Linked DNA regions of Homo sapiens. The protein of the gene in region 1 purifies or fractionates together with the protein of each later gene. This does not show direct contact. Each region holds a gene or a part of one and is shown in the gene's direction. Other genes may lie near its edges.

Region 1 (2,392 bases):
GCAGTTGTTGCTTCTATGGGCCACCCTGGCCTCCTCCTAAAGGAAGGGAATTTAGGACTGGAAAGATAGGCATAGGAGACAACATGTTCTAAGTAAGACACGTCTGCCTCCTCTGTGTGAACTTGCTAACATCTATTAGATATATACCTGCTAGTTTCAAAGCAGAAACATTTTTTCAAGTTGTCCCTTGAACAATGTAGGGATTAGGGCTTCTGACCCTGAGCAGTTGATAATCTGCATATAATTTTTGACTCCCCAAAAACTTAACTGCTTAATAGCCTACTCTTGATCAGAAGACTTACGGACAACATAAGCAGTCACTTAACACATATTTTTGTGTTATACATATTATATACTATATTCTTAAAAAGTAAGCTAGAGAAAAATGTTATTAATAAAATTATAAAAAAGAAAATATACTAACTATTCATTAAGTGGAAGTAGATCATCATAAAGTTCTTCATCCTCATTGTCTTGATGTTAAGTAGACTGAGGAGGAAGAGGAGGGTTGGTCTTGCCATCTTGGGGTGGCAGAGACAGAGGAAAATTCCCATATAAATGGACCTGCACAGGTAAAATCTGTGTTGTTCAAGAATCAACTGATTTCTTTTTAGAGCCTTCTTCTGGCATGTCTGATGTGTGACTGATGCGGCATTCATTAATCCGATTATCAGAGGCTGGGTGTTGATTTTCTTTTATAGGTAACAGAAAAGAAGAAAAACATATTATTTGACCTAAGTGACAACACTGGGAAAATGGAAGTACTGGGGGTTAGAAACGAGGACACAATGAAATGTAAGGAAGGAGATAAGGTTCGACTTACATTCTTCACACTGTCAAAAAATGGAGAAAAACTACAGCTGACATCTGGAGTTCATAGCACCATAAAGGTGGGAACTGCATGGAACAAAGTCAACTCTCCAAGGGGGTGATATTTTTTGTTTTCTATCAGAAAGCCGGACTGGAGCCATTGAACAGGATATAGAGTGGAAGACATTGATATTTAGTACACGTTCATCTCACAGAACTGAGGAACCTCCCTCTTAGGAAACATGTATTCTAGATACACAGTTAAGAGAACATGGGCTTTTCAAGGCAGAGGCGCATATTGTTGTGCCCACAGAGCCCAAAAAAGAGCTCCTTATTTATACTACAAGTCTAAAGCAGAAAGCTTGCCCAGAGTCGGAAAAGTCATTCTGACTAATGTCTTTGAAAGTAGACAGACAATAAATACTTTGAGGACACATTTCCCTAGCCAGTCCCACCACGTCTGCACCTACCATAGTCCAGTGCAGTTAAGTCCATGTAAACCCCTACTCTTGACCTTCCACCACACCCTCCTACCCGTGTCCTGCCACTACTTGGTGCTCTTCCCCAGGTCTCAGTGTTGGTTGCACTGCCTGCTATCTCTGTAAGAGTGGAGGCCAAGATTTGAGAAATATGCGTATGTGACCTTGCTAAGTGGGAGTGTATTTCTCAGGTCAGATATTCACTTCAGGAGTATGATCCAAGGCAGACCAATGTATTAGAAGGGTGGGAACAAAATAATTTTATGAGAAGATGATACATACACTTCAGAAGGCCATAGTGACTGCAAACAGTGGAGGGGCCACTCATCGACTGCATCTCAGACTGCATGTTTTTTTTCTCCATCCAGGTTATTAAGGCCAAAAAAAAAACATAGAGAAGTAAAAAGGACCAATTCAAGCCAACTGGTCTAAGCAGCATTTAATTGAAGAATATGTGATACAGCCTCTTCAATCAGATTGTAAGTTACCTGAAAGCTGCAGTTCACAGGCTCCTCTCTCCACCAAATTAGGATAGAATAATTGCTGGATAAACAAATTCAGAATATCAACAGATGATCACAATAAACATCTGTTTCTCATTCATTACAGTCCCACTATCTCCTTTAGTTTGTCAATCCCTTGTCTCAAGCGAAAATACTTTATCAATGTATTATATGATGTTTATACAAATTTAAAAGTAAACTATATGACAACAATTGCACAAAATACAAGAGGGAAGAATTAGGAGTACACTGTTAGAAGATCCTGTACAACATGTGAAGCAGCGCAGTATTATTTGAAAGTAGATACTGAATAATTAAAGATGTATATTTTGTCCCATAGGGCAATGATTTAGAAATATTTTAAAAGGTATAGAAATAATAACACAATTTTGTGTTATTGGAGAAAGAATAAGCATAAAGCCCAATGGAAAACTAGAGAGCCAAAACTAGGCTTGCACATTTACAGTCTATTGATTTCTACAAAAGTACAACACAGTTCAGTGGAGAAAAGACTAAAAAAAAAGCTACAACAACAATTAGATATCCATACTTAAAAAAATGAATCTGAGCCATTCCTCACTCTTTATACAAAAATAAACT
Region 2 (3,500 bases), on another chromosome or scaffold:
ATGGCTGCATCTTCTTAAGGCTGTTTTTTTCCCTCCTAAGCAGAAAATCATACATTCTGCAACAAAAGCTGGAAACATCCTAAATGCCTGGAAGCAGTTTAGTTTTAAGGGTTGAGGCCAGGTGCGGTGGCTTGGCTGGGCACAGTGGCTCACACCTGTAATCCCAGCTACTCAGGAGGCTGAGGCAGGAGAATCACTTGGACCAGGGAGGTGGAGGTTGCAGTGAGCCAGGATTGTGCCACTGCACTCCAGCCTGGGCGGCAGAGTGAGACTCTCAAAAAAAAAAAAAAAGAGTTCAGAGGTAGATTCTGGAGATGGATCAATTTCTGTGTGTCCCTGGACAAACTCCTTAACCTCTGCTCCTCACTTGCAAGAGGTTTTCGGAAGATTCAATGGATGGATGTTTATTATACACTTAAAGCAGAAGTCATCAAGTTGGCTGTCACCTGGGTTGTTTTTGTTTTGTTTTGTTTTTGTTTTGGGGTTTTTTTGTTTTTGCTTTGTTTTGCTTTTTTTCAAGACAGGGTCTCATGGTGTAAATGAAGTTTTCTGAGAGCACAACCACACCTATTGATACTGTTGTCTATGGCTGCTTTTGTGCTTTAGTGTCAGAGAGGAGTCCTGACTCATCTGTTCTACAATTCCTGAAGAATTTACTAGGCAGCTCCAACAAAGTGTTTCCCAGCCTAGTTCAATGCCTAGCATCTAGAAAGCACCGTAGAGTTATGAAATGTACCACCACGAATACAGTTTTTACTGCAGTGTAACCATCAAAATGAATTAAGCACATCTGTGTGAACTCAAACAATCTCCAAAAGAGAAGTGACACTTGGGGAGGGTTCAGAATGATGTGCTGCCCCTGGTGCAGATGTCTAAGGGGAGATGGTCTTTGGCACTTAAACACGTGTGTAGCATATGCGATGACCACTGCATGGCAGGAAGAAAGGAGTAGTGGAGAGTGGTTTTCAGTGAATGGGCTTTTGTACCTTTTGAGTCTTCTGATCGTGTGCGTGTCTTTCCTAGTGAAATATAGTGATAAAAATACATGCTGGTTATAAAATATCTGAAAACGTCTCCCCCTAAGTATATCTCAAATTTCAGGGCTTTAGAGCAGATGGCCAAAATTGGTTTCAGTCACAAATTATCTGAACCCCCTTTCTTTGTTTGGGGAATCCTTTGCCTTATTGGGCAGAGCCTACTTCTTAGAATAAAAGCTATTCTTCCCCTGCAAGTAGGGCATAGGATATTGCCAGTCTCGAGCTCCTGTCCTCACCCTCATGCTGGGAGATGCTGTTCCATTGAGGGAGGTACCTACCCCAGGGGCAGCAGGTCCCACATCCTCAGCATCCAGGCTGGGCGAGCAGCGGTGGCTGAAGGCTCCACTTCAGCAGGACTCTAGCCATTGCTCCTGGAAGAACAGCCCTCACCCTGTGCTCAGATCCACTTAGAGGCTGTGCACTCATTTTCATCTCTTTTCTGTTTGACTTAGACTTTTTTTCTTTCTTTTGCATCTTAAAACCTACATAGCTACCATATTAGTAGATTTCCTAGTCTATGTGCAGGTGGACATTTACATACAACTTTTTTTTCAGTTTAGCTGCAATTATACTATAATAGTGTTTTGATTTCTGCCCTGGGTTTAAAATTTTGTTGTGAATTATTTTCATAGCTGTTCACTTTTCATTGTACAGATGTACCATTATGTTACGTTATTGTTGGTGTGATGAACTGTATTTTCTCCATTTATTTTACAGATAGAGGACAAAGAAACTATAAACAATTTAGATACTTCATCATCTGACTTCACTATATTACAGGTAAACTGTTGTATGTCTCAGTACTTTTAGAATGAAAGGTCAGACCACAATTTCTGGAATCCATTTCAGACACCATATGCCAGTTCCAGCTAATAATCACCACAAGGGTTGTTTCCTTTGTCAGGATCGTTAATGGGTGTTTGCTTTCTGCTTTCCTCCAAATATAATGTACGCATTGCCAGGGACTTAACTCTAGGCTTCGACGAGTGGCCTCCAAGCGCTGTGGCTTACCAGCAGTCATTAGAGTCATGTTTTGTGGCATTCTTAATTTCATTGCTTGTGGCAGGGGAAGGCAGCCTGTCTCATCTACCCTGGGTGGCATCCCCTGCAGAAAGATGATTTGATGAGACAGCAAGAGGGCATGGCTACCTGGGAAAGATGAGTAGGGCCCAGATGGGGATTGAGGGTTGACAGAGCCCTGTTGGGGAAGGTGGGGTCTCAGGGGTTCTGGTCTTGTCTTTGGGAAGTTTTTTTTGTTTTGTTTTGTTTTGTTTTTGTTTTGTTTTTTCTGAAATTGCCCAGATTTCATTTAATGACTGTATCATCCTACCTGTTTCATTGGCATCTCTGTAAATATTAAATCTTAGATGAGAACAGATGAGTTGAGAATTTCCAGGTATGATTTTTATATTTGTGGGTCTTGAGTTTCCTTTTTTTTTCCAGCCTACATAGATACAAATTGTTAGAACACACTTACCTAGGTAGCTGGCTAATTCTTAGGAGAACTTTTTGTGGAGAAATGAAGATCGAGCCAGCTTTTGCCCAGCCTTTTTATTTATTTATTTTTTTTCCCGTCTTCTTTTTAAATGTCATCTATGTTATTGTAATTAGAAATCCCCTTTTGGAAAAGATCTCCATTTGCTTCTGCCATGCAAGGGCAAGGGAGATACTGGAAAGCCAGAGCTCCAACCTTGAGGAGGGCACAAATCTCAAGAAAACGTGGTGAAACCCAGTTCGCTTTTAGAGCTGCCGTCTCTCCACCTGCAAATTGACACGGCCATTCCCGACTCAGAAAGGAGAGGAGGAGCCGGATCTTGTCACTTTCCCCTGGCTCTTTCTTGGTCACAGTCTCCCATGTTAAAATGGGAAACCTACAGTCTCTCCTAAACAAATAGGAATGTATTTGCTTCTCTTTAGAGAAAATGAGGAAGAATTATTCTGCCAACATTGATGATTTGCTTCAGTCCTATGGTCAGAATTCCCAGCATGGGGTAGGGTACATGGGGAAAAAACTGATTAAAAATAAGTGAAAGCATGAGGAAAGTGTACAGTTTCATAGAGCATCCTGGAATGGCAGGGCAGTTCCCAGGGGAAGTTATAATTCAGTCACACCTACTTATTGGGTATATGTGAATCCCCTGTGATGTGTCAGGTGTGGCATTAACTACCAGCATTACATAGATGAATGAGAAGGAAGGGTGGTCCCCATGCTCGTGGGGCCTGGCCTGATGGTTAACAGTGCAGACTCACACTCATACACGGCCTTTGCTCAGAGCCTGTCTCTGCTTCCCACCTGCTGTGTGTCCTTGGGCAAGTTACTCAGTCTGTCTGGTCACAGTCTGTTACTCTGTAAAAAGAAGGGTGCTACCATTAGGACCAACCTCCTGCAACCGATGACGAGTCTGTGTGTATGTAAGGTGCTTACATTTGTGCCTGGAACCTAGTCAGTGCCCATCAGTTGAC
Region 3 (4,022 bases), on another chromosome or scaffold:
AAATAAAACAAAATATTGCTTAAGAAAGCACTCTCCTTGTTTTTCTTTCTCCTGCTCCAGTTTCCAGGAAAACTTAAAAGTGTTATCTTTGTTTTCTCGTTATCATTATTATTGCTGCAAGATTGTTTTCAAAATTTAATCAATATGCTTTGCACACTGCTTTTGTCTTATGCTTTGTCTTGTTCAGTATTTAGTAGAGAGTTCATAATGTCTAAGTATTCGGGTAAAACTGCAAGTCAAAGGATGACAAAGTTTTAAAAATCTGTTTATCTATGGTTTTGTATTTTTCCAAAGAAACTACAATTTTCACCTGATTTCTGCATCCATTTTCATATCGCTTGAACAGGTTATATTTTTCCAACAACAACAAAAAGACCCGTTGCGAACAACTAGAAATATTTGGAAGTTTTGATATTTTGTCTTTCTCTTCTTTTTGATCACGGTAGTGATGGGAGAATAAACTTAAGTCAGAGATATTTACTGAGAGAAAGAGAGTAAGAACACACACAAAGGGAAAGAAAGCAGAAAAAACTTTACAAGTGCAAACTCAGTAGGAAACATTTTAGGAAATAAAAATGTTCCCCCTCTTTCCCTTGTTCAATTTCCATCCCCACAGAGGAAAAACAGAATACTTACAAGTTAGCATCTGCGTATTTATCAGTGTATGTGTGTTTTCTCTCTTCTCTGGGCTTGGATACTTTGAGCTAATTTGGAAGTGCCCGTTTGGTTGCCCACAAAATGATGCTTAAGGGTCTAAAAACGCATAAATTAGGGAGCCCTACAATGGCAAAGGACGGTCATTGTACCTCCTCTCTTTATGCGCTCTTACGGTGGGACCCAAGAGCCTTTTTTTTTTTTTTTAACACTTTAGGTGATGGAGCGAATGAGGGGCTGATAACTGGAGAGGACGAAGCAAGCCCCCGCAACACCCTCCCCCCAAACTTAGCAGCACGTTCCCCATTCCGCAATTATACCGGACTTTGGTGCGAAGTCACTTTAGAAAACTGGGATCTGGAAGGGGCCAGGCGCGGAGTCCATGTCTAGCCTCGACGCCAGCCTCCGAGTTTCTATTTCTGGTGCTCGAGGGCTGGGGTAACGGCCGCGGATGGAGGAGCGAAGGATGGGAAAAGCAAAGGATGGGAAAAGCAAAGATGGGAAAAGCAACGGGGAGTGATCTTTCCAAGAAACACCCAACTGCCCCTTTTACCTTTTTTTGCCTCCATTATGGGGCGGGGGTTGGGGGGGCGAGAGAAAAAGATGTCAATGACCATTGTTTGCTCGTTTGGGATGTTGCTCCGCCCCCCGAGTCTGTCGTAAACCTGGCGCCGGACTAAAATAAACCCCAGATCCCGCAGCCCGGGGGGCTCGCCGAGCCGCCGACTCCTCGTCACAGGCTCAGCTGCCGCGGCCGAGGTGGCGGCGACGAGCGGCCGCCGCGTCCTGCCGGCGCGCGCCCCAGGCCCCCCTACCTGGCTGCCCGCCGAGCCATGTCGTTGAGCCCAAAGCACACGACGCCCTTCTCCGTGTCCGACATCCTGAGCCCCATCGAGGAGACCTACAAGAAGTTCAGCGGCGCCATGGACGGCGCGCCACCCGGCCTGGGGGCGCCCCTGGGGGCCGCGGCCGCCTACCGCGCGCCGCCACCTGGGCCCTCCTCGCAGGCGGCGACCGTGGCGGGCATGCAGCCTTCTCACGCCATGGCGGGTCACAACGCGGCGGCCGCGGCGGCGGCGGCAGCAGCTGCGGCGGCGGCGGCCGCCACCTACCACATGCCGCCCGGCGTCTCGCAGTTCCCGCACGGCGCCATGGGCAGCTACTGCAACGGCGGCCTGGGCAACATGGGCGAGCTGCCCGCCTACACGGACGGCATGCGGGGCGGCGCGGCCACCGGCTGGTACGGCGCCAACCCGGACCCACGCTACTCGTCAAGTGAGAGGGGCCAGGAGCGCGGGGCTGCGGGCGGCTCAGGCGTTTCCCGCCACAGCCGAGGGGCGCGGGGGCGCGGGACGGGGTGCGCGCGGCTTAGGAGGTCCTGGGGCCGAGCGGGCGCGCGGGGCGTCCTGGGACGCGGCCCGGGACGCGCGGGGTTTCTGGGGACCCTGGGCGCGCGGGGGGTCCTGGGACCTGACCGGGAACGCGCGCGGCGTCCTGGGACCCGTTGAGGGCGTGGTGCTCTGGGACCCGCCGAGGGCGCGCGGGGCGTGCTGGGGCCGGAGGCCGCGGCGGTCAGGGGGTCTTGGGATTCAGCGAGGGCCCGGCGGCGTCGCGGCCGCGGCGTGAAGAGAGCGGCGGCTGGACCGGCTCCCGGCGGGCCTGGAGCTCACTCGCCTTCCCCCTTGGGACTCTTCCCCAGTCTCCAGGTTCATGGGGCCGTCGGCGGGCGTGAATGTGGCCGGCATGGGGTCGCTGACCGGCATCGCGGACGCCGCCAAGTCGCTGGGCCCGCTGCACGCGGCGGCGGCGGCAGCCGCTCCGCGAAGGAAGCGCCGCGTGCTCTTCTCGCAGGCGCAGGTCTACGAGCTGGAGCGGCGCTTCAAGCAGCAGAAGTACCTGTCGGCGCCCGAGCGCGAGCACCTGGCCAGCATGATCCACCTGACGCCCACGCAGGTCAAGATCTGGTTCCAGAACCACCGGTACAAGATGAAACGGCAGGCCAAGGACAAGGCGGCGCAGCAGCTGCAGCAGGAGGGCGGCCTGGGCCCGCCGCCGCCTCCGCCGCCGTCCCCGCGCCGCGTGGCGGTGCCTGTGCTGGTCAAGGACGGCAAGCCGTGCCAGAACGGCGCCAGCACGCCCACCCCCGGCCAGGCCGGTCCGCAGCCGCCGGCCCCGACGCCAGCACCTGAGCTGGAGGAGCTGTCGCCCAGCCCACCCGCGCTGCACGGCCCGGGGGGCGGCCTGGCGGCCCTGGACGCGGCCGCCGGGGAGTACAGCGGCGGCGTCCTGGGCGCCAACCTGCTCTATGGCAGGACGTGGTGACAGCGAGGGCGCCCCGGGGCTAGGTCCTGGTGCACCCGAAGGGTCTGCAAGAAACTGCTAGAACGGATGGGGGAGGCATGCGAAAACCGACTCGCGCGTGTAAACTGCGATTCAAAACGAACCGGTCTCAGAGAGGAGCAGGCTGTGAACCTCTTGCTGGGGGCGGGGGACAGCGACAGCCCGGAAACCGAGTAGTGTAACATTATGCCACGAGGCTTTGAGGTGGTGATTTTCTCCTCCTAGAAGTTCTTAAATGACGCGAAAAGGTGGAGAAGTTCACACGGCATTCTTAACTACAGCTCTCAAAGTTGGAAACTTTGTTGGCGTTTGTAACTATAAAAATCAACCCAGCTTTAACAATCAGTCCTTTTTGAAGTGGAATTTATCTTGGGAGATTAATTTTCGAAGGGCCCCCTAAGTGCAATTTCATTAATGTTTGATTGAAAGTAAATTGAAGTGTAGCTCAAGGTGGATCATACACATAGCAACATTATTGCAGAGGAATTATTGCCATTTAGGTAATAGAGCAATGGAATCAAAATAAAATACTGATTATATGGATTGATGGAGCTTTTTAAATTTAATGCTGATTTCAAAATGTTTTGATGATTATTTGGCAAGTGAGTGTTTGTATGTTACGCTAAAAGAGGATTTTCCCCCCTAAGATGCAGCTCACCATAAGAAAGGTTGTATACTATTTGTATATGAAATCTGGTCTCCCAACATCAACTGAGAAAATAAATAACCCTATCCTTCTGTAAACATGGTATTTACTCTCTTTGAGGTATTTTCTTGTCTGAATTTGAATACCTTGATAAAGTACTAGAACAAACAAGTAAAATTTCTAAAATTGACATCAATTAATCTATATTCAAAGCATGACAAGAAGAAGAAAGGTGATTTATTGAATTGTAATCAAGATATAAGGAATAAGTAACTACAATATAATTTTTCCACCATATTTAGAACTTAGGAGTTGCACTGGTTTTGTTGGTGTTTTATTGTACAAATAATGTATTTACTCTTTAATATGCCGATTTATATTT
Region 4 (3,500 bases), on another chromosome or scaffold:
GATCAGGTATCTGGGGAGGGCTTGCTTTCTGATTGTATCCTCTCATGGCAAAGAGCAGAGAGGAAGCAAGATCTCTGGATCTCTTCACAAGGCACTAATCCCATTTAGAGGACTTCACCTTTACAACCCAATTATTTCTCAAAGGCCCCACTCCAGATGCCATCAAATTGGGGGTTAGAATTTCAACATATCAGCTTTTGGGGACATAAACATTCAGTCCATGACGATACCAGCAGAAAGAGTACATCTGAGTTGTAATAACACCACCCACATCTGTAATAATACTGGAGAATACTTAAGTATATTTCTTGTTCAGATGACATGATATCATACATTGAAATTTTGTGTTAAGTAAGTAATTTTTTGGCTAACAAACACCAAGGTATTGAGTTCATGTCCAGTATAGGAAAGATACCACTAAAAAAATTATAGCTTGTGGATTTTCTAAAGTATATTTTGTTATGTTTGCAAAGGTTTTAAAATTTATCAATGCCTTAGAGGCATCTCTGGGTATCAGTTAATTTGTGGAGTTCCTAGATTAAACTTTGAGACTTGAGACTGATGATAATTACATCAAAGACAGGAAAATGGCTCAGATAGAAAACCTTTATTTTCTTTCTATAAGAGGAAGTCTTTTGTAGTTCCAGAAATTTTTTTTTTCTTTTAAAAATTAGAGATGAGGTCTCGCTCTGTTGCCTGGACTGGTCTTGAACTCCTGAGCTCAGGCAGTCCTCCCACCTTAGCCTCTGAAAGTGCTGGGATTGTAGTCATAAGCCACCATGTCCAGCCCAGTTTCAGAATTATTACTATTTTTCAATTTATTATGCTTAGAAATATTGACTTGAGATGTAGAAAGCTGAGTTTTGAGCCGAAGACTCTACTTCACTTTAGGCACCTTTCATTCATATATGTCTCTACTATAGACTAGGGCTTTGCAAGCACCTGTCATACCCTGTGTATATGGATATATGGGATAGAGGCCATACAGGTCAAGTGGGCACAAAAATGCTTAGGGACGAAATGACACCTAATTTTTAAATCATGACAGGATGTTTAAGGTTATAAAGCATACTAATATATTTAAAATTCTAATTTAAGAAGAGTTTTTCTTCATGTTTGCAATGTTACAGTGTTCTCTATTTCATAGACATGCTTTTTTTTTTTTTAAGTTTATCATGCATTGTGGTTGAAAAGCAGCACACAATTTATGGCAAGGAACACAGTGAAGTTTATAATGTGACAATGTGATAATAGCCAAGACTGTCAAAATATGCCAGCCATCCTCTGTAATTAGGCTCATTTGTGTTCTTAAACTTGAGATGCATGTATAAAAATATCATTTTCTTCTGCTTGCTTTCTGGCAGTCTTGTGTGTTTTTACTGCACTGTCACGTTGTACTGTAGCAACGTTATGCTTTCTAATCAAGATTTGGTAAGGATTATCTTGCTTCCAGAAGCCTGTCAAAGTATATTCAGACATTTTCCAGGAGAAATGTATAGTTTTCATGTGAACTGATTGGCAAGAAGTGATGCTAAGTTACAATGTAAATACTGGGATTTCTTTCTTAATTATAGCTTTTATAATTAGAACGCAGACAATCTGTAGGGCTATACAGCTTTTACAAATTAAAAAAATATTTTCCCAGATCTTATTCTTGATAGTCTTTTTCACTGGAGCTGACTAGCTTACATTTTCCCACCAAGAGCAAATTTAAAGGACAGATAATCAGCACAATCAACTGTAGTCACAAAACAAATAGTAACACAATGATAAAGAAACAGAGAACTAGTTCAAATAAACATGATAAGATGGGGAAAAAAACAACGGAAACAAATGTGTTCAAAAGCCAACAATAATCCTTAAGATTCAGAAAGCTGAGCCAGACTAAAGCAAGTGATTTAAAGAGGTGGCCTATAAGTAAAATAAGCAAAGATCTGTTTGAGAAATTGCAAAGTGATTTGAAAAATTGCAAATTGGAATTACTTGAGACTAAGGTGGAACATGTTTGTTTCGTTGTAACTAAGAAACAGATGCTCAGTATATTTTTCAACCACGTTGATGAACCCATAGAAAAAGGGGAATAACGGAATCAGGGGTGGTGAGAATTTTAAAATCTAAGTTATAACCATTTTTTCTATTTGCTACAAAAATAATTATTAGAAAAATAGCCGCCATTTTCTGATAGCCTACCATATGTGATACATGTCACAATATGCTTTATGTATACTTACCTATAAAACTTAAGATAGCACTGCAAGTTGGATTATGATTCCATTTTACAAAATAGGAAACTAAGGCTGAGAGAGGTCCCTGTTCATAGTCTTAAAGTTGTCCCTCCATATCTGGTAGGTACTGGTTCCAGGACCCCTGTAGATAGCAAAATTTGCGGGTGCTCCAGTCCTTTATATAAAATGGCTTAGTATTTGCATATAACTCACAATCTCATCCTCTTGCATACTTTAAGCTCTAGATTATTTATAATACCTAATACAATGTAAATGCTATGTAAATAGTTACACTGTATTGTTTAGGGAATTATGACCCCCCCCCCCACAAAAGTCTGGTGAAACCCCCTCTCTACTAAAAATACAAAAAATATCAGCCGGGTGTGGTAGCGGGCACCTGTAATCCCAGCTACTCTGGAGGCTAAGGCAGGAGAATTGCTTGAACCTGGGAGGCAGAGGTTGCAGTGAGCCGAGATCACGCCATTGCACTCCAGCCTGGGCAACAAGAACGAAACTCCGTCTCAAAAAAAAAAAAAGAAAAGAAAAAGTCTGTACGTGTTTAATATAGATGCAACCATCCATTTTTTCCAAATAATCTTGTTTTGCAGTTGGTTGAATCAACAGATAACAGAACCTGTGGATATAGAGTTGACTATACTCTACTTGTCCAGAGGATAAACTTTCAGTAGTCTCAACTTCCTAGACAATTTTCTAAAAAATAGGCTTTTCTACCTGAAAAGGGGTAGTAATACTAATAATGTTTTGGTTTTTTTTTTTTTTTTTTAGACGGAGTCTTGCTCTGTCTTCCAGGCTGGAGTGCAGTGGCACAATCTCAGCTTACTGCAGCCTCCACCTCCTGGGTTCAATCAATTCTTCTGCCACCACGCCTGGCTAATTTTTTTGTATTTTTAGTAGAGACGGGGTTTCACCATGCTGGCCAGGCTGGTCTCGAACTCCTGACCTCGTGACCTGCCTGCCTCGGCCTCCCAAAGTGCTGGAATTACAGATATGAGCCACCGTGCCTGGCACTAATAATTTTTTTTTTTTTTTTGGAGACAGAATTTTGCTCTGTCGCCAGGCTGGAGTGCAGTGGTGCGATCTGGGCTCACTGCAACCTCTGCCTCCCGGGTTCAAGCGATTCTCCTGCCTCAGCCTACCGAAAAGCAGGGATTACAGGCGCCTGCTGCCATGCCCGGCTAATTTTTTTGGTATTTTTAGTAGAGATGGGGTTTCACCATGTTGGCCAGCATGGTCTCCATCTCTTGACCTCGTGAT
Region 5 (3,142 bases), on another chromosome or scaffold:
ATGTAGATGTATGGACTTTACGGACTTATCTCTGGGTTCTCTGTTCTTTTCCACTGTTGCACTGATCTATGTATCTGTTTCTATACCAGCACCATGCTGTTTTGGTTACTATAGCTCGGTACTATAAGTTAAGTCAGGTAATGTGATTCTTCCAGTTTTATTCTTTTTGCTTAGGGTGGCTTTGGCTATTTCTGGGTGTTCTGTGGGTCCATATAAATTTTAGTATTTTTTTTTCTATTTCAGTGAAGAATGTCATGGGTATTTTGATAAGGATTGCATTGAATCTGTGGATTGCTTTGGGTAGTATGGACATTTTAACAATATTGAATTTGCTAATCCATGAACATGGAATATCTATTTTTTTGTGTCTTCAGTTTCTTACATCAGTGTTTTATAGTTTATCTTAGAGATCTTTCGCTTCTTTGATTAATTCCTGGGTATTTTATTTCACGTGTAATTACTGTAAATGGGATTACTTTTTATTTTTCACATTCTTCACTGTTGGCATAGAAATGCTACTGTTTGTTGTATGTTGATTTTGTATCCTGCAGTGTCACTGAATTTGTTTATGAGTTCTAATAGTTTTTTGATGGAGTCTTTAGGTTTTTCCAAATGTAAGATTATGTCATTTACAAATAGGGCAATTTGACTTCTTTGTTTCCGATTTAGATGTCCTTTCTTTCTTTCTCTCGTCTGATTGCTGTAGCTAGGACTTCCTTGAAATACTTAAAAAGTACAAATTTAGCTTGACTGGGTTGTGTGGGAAAAATCACTTCTTGATGATATGGTAGTCCTTAATATGGGGCTTCGTGAAAATCAGGAAAGTATGTCTCGTAAATGTCAAGTGTGTACACATCTCATTGAGAATACAAGTTATAATTTTAGAATAATTTAAGAAACATTGGAAAAGCAGTGGTATTATGACTTTTACTGTTAGTCTCTAAGCTTTGATTATTTCAGTGATGTTTTAGCAATGTGAAGGCAAACACTTAAAGGGAAAAAATGTTATTTAATAATAGTTAATTTAATAAAAAATGGTTAATTTATAAAGTCATGAATAAATGAGTATCTCTGGATAATATTTGGTACTTATGTAACTGCCTTTTAAAAACTCAAGTGTTTCTTACTATTTTGGGAAGCTTGCATTTATTTGATATTGATCTACTACTGTTAATTGTGCATTAGTTTTATAACGTCATTATTAACATTAACATTTTTTATTCTGTAAGTAAAATAAGTAGGTAAGATTATTTGGAGGCTTTATAGTTTGCTTTGAAAGATTTATATAGCCTGGGGGAAAAGTCTCATACCTATTACTTTGTAGTAGTTGTTATTACTAAAGTGTTATAATGTGTCTGCAACTATATTTCATGTTTATATTAGTCTTGTGAAAAGTAATCCTTCTGTCTGTTTGTAGACACAGAAACGTAAAATGGATGGCGCACCTGATGGTCGAGGAAGAAAAAAGAAGCTGAAACTATGAATATGTTTTTGTTTCATAATCACTAACTTTAAACCAGTAGTTCTTTAATTTACGGGTCTTCATAAGATGTACTGTACAATGCTCAATTGTTATGTCATTTAAAGACATCAGGTTCATCTGTTTACTGAGCTAGAAACATAGTATGTAGTTTCACTTTTTTAAATGCAACAGCTGTGCTGAAATTTTTTTATCATTAACACTTGAAGTAATAAAATAGGCTTCATTTATTACTAAGTGTTTCATTTGATTTATTTTTCTATTGTAGTTCCATTTGTGAAGATTGTGACTTTTTGTTTATTAGCTATAATTTCTACACTTGTAAGGCTTAAAAACAAGTTAAAAAGAAAATTGCAAATAACATTTGTCCCTTTCAGTCTTCACCTAGTTGTGTAATTATTTTAATTCACTTTGCCTTTGCAGAAATTTGGGTATTTTCTTTGTAGTGCTATTGAGTCTCATCTGGAAAGATTATATAAATTGCATTCTCCTTGCTTATGTGGGTAGAATGGGAAAAGAAGGCAAGACAAAGTATACTTAAATTCTATGCATATTTCTGTTATGCTTTCTGTTTTTTTTAGTTGATTCTGAAATGAATATGCCCTATTCTTTTGAAAGAATGGCCTTTTAGTTGTATAGCCAAAGACATTTAGTATTTTCCGGTTCCTTAAGGTATTACTGTACCATTTTGTAAAAGGAATATTATTATTATTATTTTTAATTATTTGGTAAATATTTTGTCATATGACCTTCTGAAGCAGCCACAACTTAGATAATGTCAGAACTAAGGTGATTTTTTTTTTTTAATTTTGAAAGCCCAGCCAAAATGAGGTGTGAATTTGTCATACTGTTACATTGAAATTGGTAACAAAATATATCCCCTCCCATTTGGACTTTTAGGGTAAATGAAAATTTTATTGTATTTTAAAGTAGTTTCTAAGTGTTAGCAAGACTGACTATAATTCCAGTTTCTGTTTTCTATGGACAGACCTGATAAACTGGAGACCCTAAAGCAGGAATACCCAAATTATAGTGTCAGGATTTTAGCTGTACCAGAGGCCTTTATGTGCTACACATAATTTGTATAAAATTTTATATGTGCAGATTGGGTACATAAACAGTTCTCCATTTTTCTAAGGGAATGCAATAAATGTAGCATCGTGAATAAATATAACTTTTATAATCCGTAAAGTGGTCTTTTCTTTCCATTTCTTTAATTGTTTTCTCAATTTTTATTCACTTTTTCCTTTAGGACACATTTCCCTTAATTGGATATCTTTCCCTTAAATTTCTATTAGTAGTTGTTTTCATCTGCCCACATGTAATTGAAGATTTAAAAAAAAAATTTTGATACCTGCAGTATTACTAATACTGCTTAATTTCTTGAAATGTGGAATTGCTGCTGTTAATGTCAAGCAAAACGCAGTATTTATGGCAAATTGTAAAGTAATTTGAATTTAGTGCTACCTCAAAATTAACTTTTTAAATACTATGTTAGATTCTTAACAGTTAAAGGTCTAATACATGCATGAGGAATGGTTACTTATGAAAGGAAAAAGAATTTGTAAGAGTTATCACCTCAGTTTGGAAGAAATTGAAAAAATGTAAGGCTGAAGAAAACTTACGGAGGTCACAAAAGTGATGTTTTCAAGAGGAGGAGAA
Region 6 (3,500 bases), on another chromosome or scaffold:
TTTCACCAGCCTGCGTTTTCTAGGTGGTAAAATTAGGGACCAGAAAGAGCATGTCACACAGGAAAGTAGGTGGCCAAGCTAGGATTCCAGTATCTCTGTCAAGACCTCCCCTGCCTGCCCCCAGCCCACCTGCACACCCATTCATATGCAAGTGTTTCAGCCTCAGGTGTTCCAGCCGGCCTGGAGTGCTCAGAGATAGGGCGTGGCCTGCTTAAACTCATGTCCCCGGGTGGGCGGGGACATGCCTCTAGCCCCAACTCAGTCCCTTCCCACACTACCAACTCACCCACCCTCAGCCCTTGAGGAGCCCCTGCTGGTCTCTTCTTTCCCCAAGCTTGGAAGTCTAAATGTGCTGAGTCATCGGCCCGGGCTCTGAGAGAGGGGAGGGGAGGGGGAAGAGGGGCAGGAAGAGAGTATTGTGAAATCTCCGAGGTTTTCAAGACTGACTAGCTCCTGGGACCAGAGGCCCAGGCAGGGGAAGAAGAGGAACCTGGGGCTTCTCCTATCACCTGACGCCCACCCCCAGGAGCTCAGAGAGCTTCTCTAGCCTCACATTGGGCTTAGGAGCCCTCTGTATCCACATTCTGCTGCCAAAGCCTCAATTCTGCTTCTTCTGCTCTCCTGTAAATAGGACAAACCCCCCCTTGCAGAGCTGAACAATAGCATCTCCACTTAATATGTGAACAGGCTCAAATCTAGGCTTCACCATAAGGACCAAAGGCTAAAACTCCCCCACCAGACTGACCTCCAGTGTGTCCCCCATCAGACTGTGACCCCTGAGAGCCATCACCAAGCCTGGTTCCTGTGTCTCTGCTTCTACATTGTGGCCTCGGAAGGCAGAGAACAGGCCTGGTTCCTGTGTCTGCTCCGTCACGCTAAGACCCTTTAGGCTTGGGATGAGACTTTTAGCTTACCTAAAATATGGCCCCATATTTCCCATTCCACAGCCTCCCAATATCACTGCAGGCCACACCAGCCACCCCAGCTACACTCTCTGCATCGTCTTCTGCAGGGGGCTCCAGGACCCCTGCCATGTCGTCATCTTCTTCATCGAGGGTCTTGCTGCGGCAGCAGCTAATGCGGGCCCAGGCGCAGGAGCAGGAGAGGCGTGAGCGTCGGGAACAGGCCGCCGCGGCTCCCTTCCCCAGTCCTGCACCTGCCTCTCCTGCCATCTCTGTGGTTGGCGTCTCTGCTGGGGGCCACACATTGAGCCGTCCACCCCCTGCTCAGGTGCCCAGGGAGGTGCTCAAGGTAAGGTGAGATCCAGAGGCCCTGGGAGGGGGCTCCTGGTGACTGAGGAGTGATCCTAGGAGCTAGGGATGGCCTCGATGCACTGGTGATTTGGGGGCAAGGTCTTAGGGGCTCTAAGGAAGGTCCCTGGTACTGTTTAAATTATCTGTGTTCATGTCTCATGTGTTTTGGGTTTCTGAGATGATCTTGTGAAATTGCGAGGAGTTCGTGGGGGCCATGAGGATGTCTTGGTGGACCATGGAGGCTCATGAGTGCCCCAAGTGGGCCCTGGCTTTGTAGGAAGAGCTTCATGTGTGTGGGATACATTAGTTCTTTGGCCATTAGGGGGTCTTGGGAAGCATTGTATGGTTCCCAGGTCTATTAGGTGGTGTCAGAGACTAGGTGGGGAATCTTGGGGACTGTGACAGGGTTTTCCAGAAACTACGAGGGATCCTGTCAGTCATGGGTGGATCTTGGCAGCTGTGAAGGATTTCTGAGAAAGAGAGTTTGGGTCCTGGGGGAGACTCGCTAATATTTTTGGGGTGTTCTCAGATTCTGGGCCCAGCTTGTCTGCGTGAGTCTAGGCACCAATGAGTTAGGAGGGTCAGGCTGGGGCTCAGAATTCACCCCTTTGAGTCCTGTTCTGCCTTGTCCCCTCTCTTTCCTTGTCTACCTTATTTCACAGGTGCAGACCCATCTGGAGAACCCAACGCGCTACCACCTGCAGCAGGCGCGCCGGCAGCAGGTGAAACAGTACCTGTCCACCACACTCGGGCCCAAGCTGGCTTCCCAGGCCCTCACCCCACCGCCGGGGCCCGCAAGTGCCCAGCCACTGCCTGCCCCTGAGGCTGCCCACACTACCGGCCCCACAGGCAGTGCGCCCAACAGCCCCATGGCGCTGCTCACCATCGGGTCCAGCTCAGAGAAGGAGGTAAGAGGCTACAGCCAAACCTCCTCCCACATTCCCCTCCCAAATTCTTCTAAACCTGTATAATATTTACTTCTTCCCCTAGATTGATGATGTCATTGATGAGATCATCAGCCTGGAGTCCAGTTACAATGATGAAATGCTCAGCTATCTGCCCGGAGGCACCACAGGACTGCAGCTCCCCAGCACGGTGAGGCCCTGAGATGGGAGGTTGGTCTGAAAATTAGGGCATTTCTGTATCACCAAGACCATACTCAGTCTGGCTGTGTGTATAGGAGACCCTTGCCTTGATTGTGCTAAGATAGAGAGGGAGGCCTTATGACGAGAACAGGGTATGTCAACAATGCCTTTGGACCTTGTTGGACTGTGTTGAGAGGTGGACCATGTAGACTGTGAGAGATACAGGTGGGGAGTTCACTGAGACAGTAGGGCATATCAAAGTGCTTGGGCTTTGCTGTGAGAAGTACCAAGAGATGATAATCTTTTTTTTTTTTTTTTTTCGAGACGGAGTCTCGCTCTGTCACCCAGGCTAGAGTGCAGTGGCGCGGTCTCAGCTCACTGCAACCTCTGCCTCCCAGGTCCAAGCGATTCTCCTACCTCAGCCTCCTGAGTAGCTGGGATTATAGGCACGTGCCACCATACCAAGCTAATTTTTCTATTTTTAGTAGAGACGGGGTTTCATCACGTTGGTCAGGCGGGTCTTGAACTCCTGACTTCGTGATCTGCCTGCCTCGGCCTCCCAAAGTACTGGGATTACAGGCGTGAGCCACCACACCCGGCCGAGATGAGCATCTTATAGCAACTTGAATGTACCAAGGGATTCAGGTCATCGGGACATATACACCAGACCATGTAATGATTGGAGCATTTTGTTTTATTTTATTTTTACCTTTTTTTTCTTTTAAGACAGAGTCTCACTCTGTCACCCTGGCTGGAGTGCAGCGGTGCGATCTTGGCTCACTGCAGCCTCTGGGTTCAAGCGATTTTCGTGCCTCAGCCTCTCACGTAGCTGGGATTACAGGTGTACGCCACTACGCTTGGCTAATTTTTGTATTTTTAGTAGAGACCGGGTTTCACCCTGTGAGCCAGGCTGGTCTTGAACTCCTGACTTCAAGTGATCCACCTGCCTTGGCCTCCCAAAGTGCTGGAATTACAGGTGTGAGCCACCACGCCTGGCCTTGAAGCATAACAAAAGTTTTCAAACTTGCTGTGGGTTATAACAAGTAGTTGGATCTCGTAGTGATTGGAATATACCAAGTGAACTGTGCCAGGAGGCAGAGTCCTTCTAGTCAGTAGATAAAACTTTCTAGAGCAAGGGATATACCATTGTAACATTCTGGTT
Region 7 (3,500 bases), on another chromosome or scaffold:
ACTACAGGCATGTGTCACCATGCCCGGCTATATTTTATATTTTTAGTAGAGAAGGGGTTTTGCCATGTTGGCCAGGCTGGCCTCAAGTGGTCCACTGCCTTGGCCTCGCAGAGTGCTGGATTTACAGGCTTGAGCCACTGCACCTGGCCCAGGTACCTTTGAGAGTTGTAATAATGCGTCATTCTAGGATCCTAATAAAAGAGCCCCAAACTGGAAGGCAGGACACTTGCCTCAACCTAACTGCCTCCCGTGCCCGCATGGCCCGCACGGCTTTCTGCATCTTCATCTGTCAGACAGGAATGGCAGATCCTTTGAGATGAGCCCTCCTATAGGTAGCTCTTTTCTTCTTTCAACAAATAGTTGTCTAGCACTGACTAATAATACCTCCTGACTGACAGCAGATAATTGCCTACTCTTCGCCATGCCCTGTGGCCATTATTTATGTGCATGATCCTAGATATGGTGGTCATTCCCATTTTACAGATGAGAAAACTGAGGCTCCAAAAGGTTAACTGGTATGGTCATACAGCTAGTGTGCAGCACAGCTGGGATTCAAACCCAGGAACCAGCGGTGAGCAAGATCGGACAAAGCCCCTGCCCTCAGGGAGGTTTCCTGGAGTCCTCTGCGATTGTGGGTGAGGGGTGACATGTGCTGTTTGTCTGCATGATGATTTGAATAAAGTTATAACTCTGGCAAGTGCTTATCAAGGAGAGCTCTATGGCAGTGTGTGATAAGCTGACCTGGTGGAGTCTGGAGAGGTCAGGGAAGCAGGTATGTGTGAGGTGGGCGCGTATGCATTCATTCAGTGACTATTTTGTGAGTTTCTGCTCCATGCCATACCCTGTGCTGCATGGAGGGGACACATGGCACCATTCAACCCTGGTGTGCCCCCTCACAGAATTGACATTACAGGGACATGGTGATCCAAAGGAGATTCATCCTGAGGTCCCACAGTGAGCCCAGAGGCAGAGCAGGCACTGACAGTGGCCTCTCTCTCTGCCCACAGTTGGAGAAGGAGGAGCAGATACACAGTGTGGACATTGGGAATGATGGCTCAGCTTTCGTGGAGGTGCTGGTGGGCAGTTCAGCTGGAGGCGCTGGGGAGCAAGACTATGAGGTAAGCAGGGCTATGAGATGGATCCCATACTGACCTCTGCCCCTCATGCTCGCATCACCGTCTCCCCCAGGGGCTGGGGCTGGGAAGACATGGGGCAGATGTGAGTCACACCTGATTGCTGCCCTCTGGAGGATCACCCAGTGTACGGAGGAGACAGAAGGCAGACACAGGGCGGTAAACTGCACATCAGGGAAGAGAGCAAGTTTGGATCATGGCTTAAAATGACACAAATGTATTATTCGACTGTTCTGGAGGTCAGAAGTCTGAAATCACTCTCACTGGGCTAAAATCTAGGTGTAGGCAGAGCCCTGTTCCTTCTGGAGGCTCTAGGGGAGAATCCATTTCCTTGCCTATTTCAGCTTCTAGAGTCCATCTGCCCTCCTCAGCTTGTGACCCTTCCTTCATCAAAGCCAGCACTCCTGTCACTCTAACGCCTGCTTCCACTTCCATTGTTACTTCTCCAACTCTGACTCTCTTGCCTTCTTTTTTTCTTTTTCTTTTTTTTTTTTTGAGACGGAGTCTCGCTCTGTCGCCCAGGCTGGAGTGAGTGCACTGGCGCGATCTCAGCTCCTTGCAACCTCTGCCTCCCGGGTTCAAGCTATTCTTCTGCCTCAGCCTCCCGAGTTGCTGGGACTACAGGTGCCCACCACCACGCCCGGCTAACTTTTTTTTTTTGTATTTTTAGTAGAGACGGGGTTTCACCATATTGGCCAGGCTGGTCTCGAACTCCTGACCTCGTCATCTGCCCGCCTCAGCCTCCCAAAGTGCTGGGATTACAGGCGTGAGCCACTGCGCCTGGCCTTCTTTTTCTTTTGTTCATTTTTTTTTGAGACAGGGTTTCATTTCCGTTGCCCAGGCTGGAGTACAGTGGCGTGTTCTCAGCTCACTGCAACTTCTGCCTCTGAGGTTCAAGTGATTCTCCCACCTCAGCCTCCCAAGTAGCCAGGGCTACAGGTGCACACCACCACTCCTGGCTAGCTTTTGTTATTTTTTATAGAGAGAGGGTTTCACTGTGTTGCCCAGGCTGGTCTCAAACTCCTGGGCTCAAGTGATCCACCCACCCCAGCCTCCCAAAGTGCTAGGATTACAGGCATGAGCCACCACACCCAGCCCTCCTTTCTTATAAAGACCCTTATGATGACACTTGGCCTACCCGGATAATCCAGGGGCATCTCCCCCATTTCAACATCTTCAAGTTCATCACATCTGCAAAGTGCCTTCTGCCACATTTCCAGGTTCAGGGATTAGGATGTAAACATCTTTGAGGAGCTGTTATTCTGCCTGTCTCCTATGTTTTCTTCTAGAAGCTTTCTATTTTTAGATTTTACATTTAGATCTCTGTTTCATCTCAAGTGAATTTTTGTGTATTGTGTGAAGCAGGGGATAAGGTTTATTTTTTCTGTATCTTTTTTTTTTTTTTTTTTTTTTTTGAGATGGAGTCTCACTCTGTTGCCCAGGCTGGAGTGCAGTGGCGCGATCTCGGCTCACTGCAAGCTCCACCTCCCGGGTTCACGCCATTCTGCCTCAGCCTCCGGAGTAGCTGGGACTACAGGCACGTGCCACCATGCCCGGCTAATTTTTTGTATTTTTAGTAGAGACAGGGTTTCACTGTGTTAGCCAGGATGGTCTCGATCTCCTGACCTTGTGATCTGCCCACCTTAGCCTCCCAAAGTGCTGGGATTACAGGTGTGAGCCACCGCACCCGGCCCTTTTCTGTATCTTTTTTATATGTTTGTTGACAATGCTTATTTATTTATTTTATTTATTTTAAGACAGAGTCTCACTCTGTTGGCCAGGCTGGAGTGCAGTGGCATGATCTTGGCTCACTGCAACCTCCGCTTCCCAGACTCAAGGGATTCTCCAGCCTCAGCCTCCTGAGTAGCTGGGACTATAGGTGTGAGCCGCCATACCCGGCTAATTTTTTAAAAAATTTTTTGTAGAAATGGGGTTTCACTACATTGCCTGGCTGGTCTTGAACTCCTGAGCTTAAAGTGATCCTCCCACCTTGGCCTCCCAAAGTATTGGGATTACAGACCTGAGCCACTGCACCTGGCTGAAAATACTTTGAAAAAAAAAAAAAGACTTGCCTTTTCTCATTGAATCATTTTGACTCCTTGTTGAGAATTAATTAACCATATGTATGGGTTTATTTCTGTACTCTCTTCTCTGTTCCATTGATATGTATAGTTTTCTTTATGCCAATACCAAACTGTCTCTTTTTTTAACCATATTATTTATTTATGTATATATGTATTTATTTATTTATTTATTTATTTATTTGAGATGGGGGTCTCACTCTGTTGCTCAGGTTGGAGTACAGTGGCATGATCTCAGCTCACTGCAACCTCTGCCTCCTGGGCTCAAGTGATCCTCCCGCCTCAG

What was found.
Region 2: the proteins of AIM2 (region 1) and SAFB purify together in Homo sapiens (affinity purification with mass spectrometry; one large-scale study listed by BioGRID and IntAct). This does not show direct contact.
Region 3: the proteins of AIM2 (region 1) and NKX2-4 purify together in Homo sapiens (affinity purification with mass spectrometry; one large-scale study listed by BioGRID and IntAct). This does not show direct contact.
Region 4: the proteins of AIM2 (region 1) and IKZF5 purify together in Homo sapiens (affinity purification with mass spectrometry; one large-scale study listed by BioGRID and IntAct). This does not show direct contact.
Region 5: the proteins of AIM2 (region 1) and SMARCA5 purify together in Homo sapiens (affinity purification with mass spectrometry; one large-scale study listed by BioGRID and IntAct). This does not show direct contact.
Region 6: the proteins of AIM2 (region 1) and TFE3 purify together in Homo sapiens (affinity purification with mass spectrometry; one large-scale study listed by BioGRID and IntAct). This does not show direct contact.
Region 7: the proteins of AIM2 (region 1) and XRCC1 purify together in Homo sapiens (affinity purification with mass spectrometry; one large-scale study listed by BioGRID and IntAct). This does not show direct contact.

Annotation. Positions count from the first base shown.
Region 1 is NC_000001.11:159,061,984-159,064,375, reverse strand, and holds the end of AIM2 (interferon-inducible protein AIM2), read left to right. Parts: intron 1-701; coding exon 702-890; intron 891-1,657; coding exon 1,658-1,684; 3' UTR 1,685-1,892; downstream 1,893-2,392. UniProt on the Homo sapiens protein: Sensor component of the AIM2 inflammasome, which mediates inflammasome activation in response to the presence of double-stranded DNA (dsDNA) in the cytosol, leading to subsequent pyroptosis.
Region 2 is NC_000019.10:5,643,583-5,647,082, forward strand, and holds part of SAFB (scaffold attachment factor B1), read left to right. Parts: intron 1-1,754; coding exon 1,755-1,817; intron 1,818-3,500. UniProt on the Homo sapiens protein: Binds to scaffold/matrix attachment region (S/MAR) DNA and forms a molecular assembly point to allow the formation of a 'transcriptosomal' complex (consisting of SR proteins and RNA polymerase II) coupling transcription and RNA processing.
Region 3 is NC_000020.11:21,394,865-21,398,886, reverse strand, and holds NKX2-4 (homeobox protein Nkx-2.4), read left to right. Parts: upstream 1-1,360; 5' UTR 1,361-1,487; coding exon 1,488-1,929; exon of another isoform or gene 1,930-2,024; intron 2,025-2,353; coding exon 2,354-2,976; 3' UTR 2,977-3,522; downstream 3,523-4,022. UniProt on the Homo sapiens protein: Probable transcription factor.
Region 4 is NC_000010.11:123,002,296-123,005,795, reverse strand, and holds part of IKZF5 (zinc finger protein Pegasus), read left to right. Parts: intron 1-3,500. UniProt on the Homo sapiens protein: Transcriptional repressor that binds the core 5'GNNTGTNG-3' DNA consensus sequence. Involved in megakaryocyte differentiation.
Region 5 is NC_000004.12:143,551,702-143,554,843, forward strand, and holds part of SMARCA5 (SWI/SNF-related matrix-associated actin-dependent regulator of chromatin subfamily A member 5), read left to right. Parts: intron 1-1,417; coding exon 1,418-1,483; 3' UTR 1,484-3,142. UniProt on the Homo sapiens protein: ATPase that possesses intrinsic ATP-dependent nucleosome-remodeling activity.
Region 6 is NC_000023.11:49,036,858-49,040,357, reverse strand, and holds part of TFE3 (transcription factor E3), read left to right. Parts: intron 1-947; coding exon 948-1,251; intron 1,252-1,915; coding exon 1,916-2,161; intron 2,162-2,243; coding exon 2,244-2,348; intron 2,349-3,500. UniProt on the Homo sapiens protein: Transcription factor that acts as a master regulator of lysosomal biogenesis and immune response.
Region 7 is NC_000019.10:43,558,528-43,562,027, reverse strand, and holds part of XRCC1 (DNA repair protein XRCC1), read left to right. Parts: intron 1-1,007; coding exon 1,008-1,118; intron 1,119-3,500. UniProt on the Homo sapiens protein: Scaffold protein involved in DNA single-strand break repair by mediating the assembly of DNA break repair protein complexes. Negatively regulates ADP-ribosyltransferase activity of PARP1 during base-excision repair in order to prevent excessive PARP1 activity.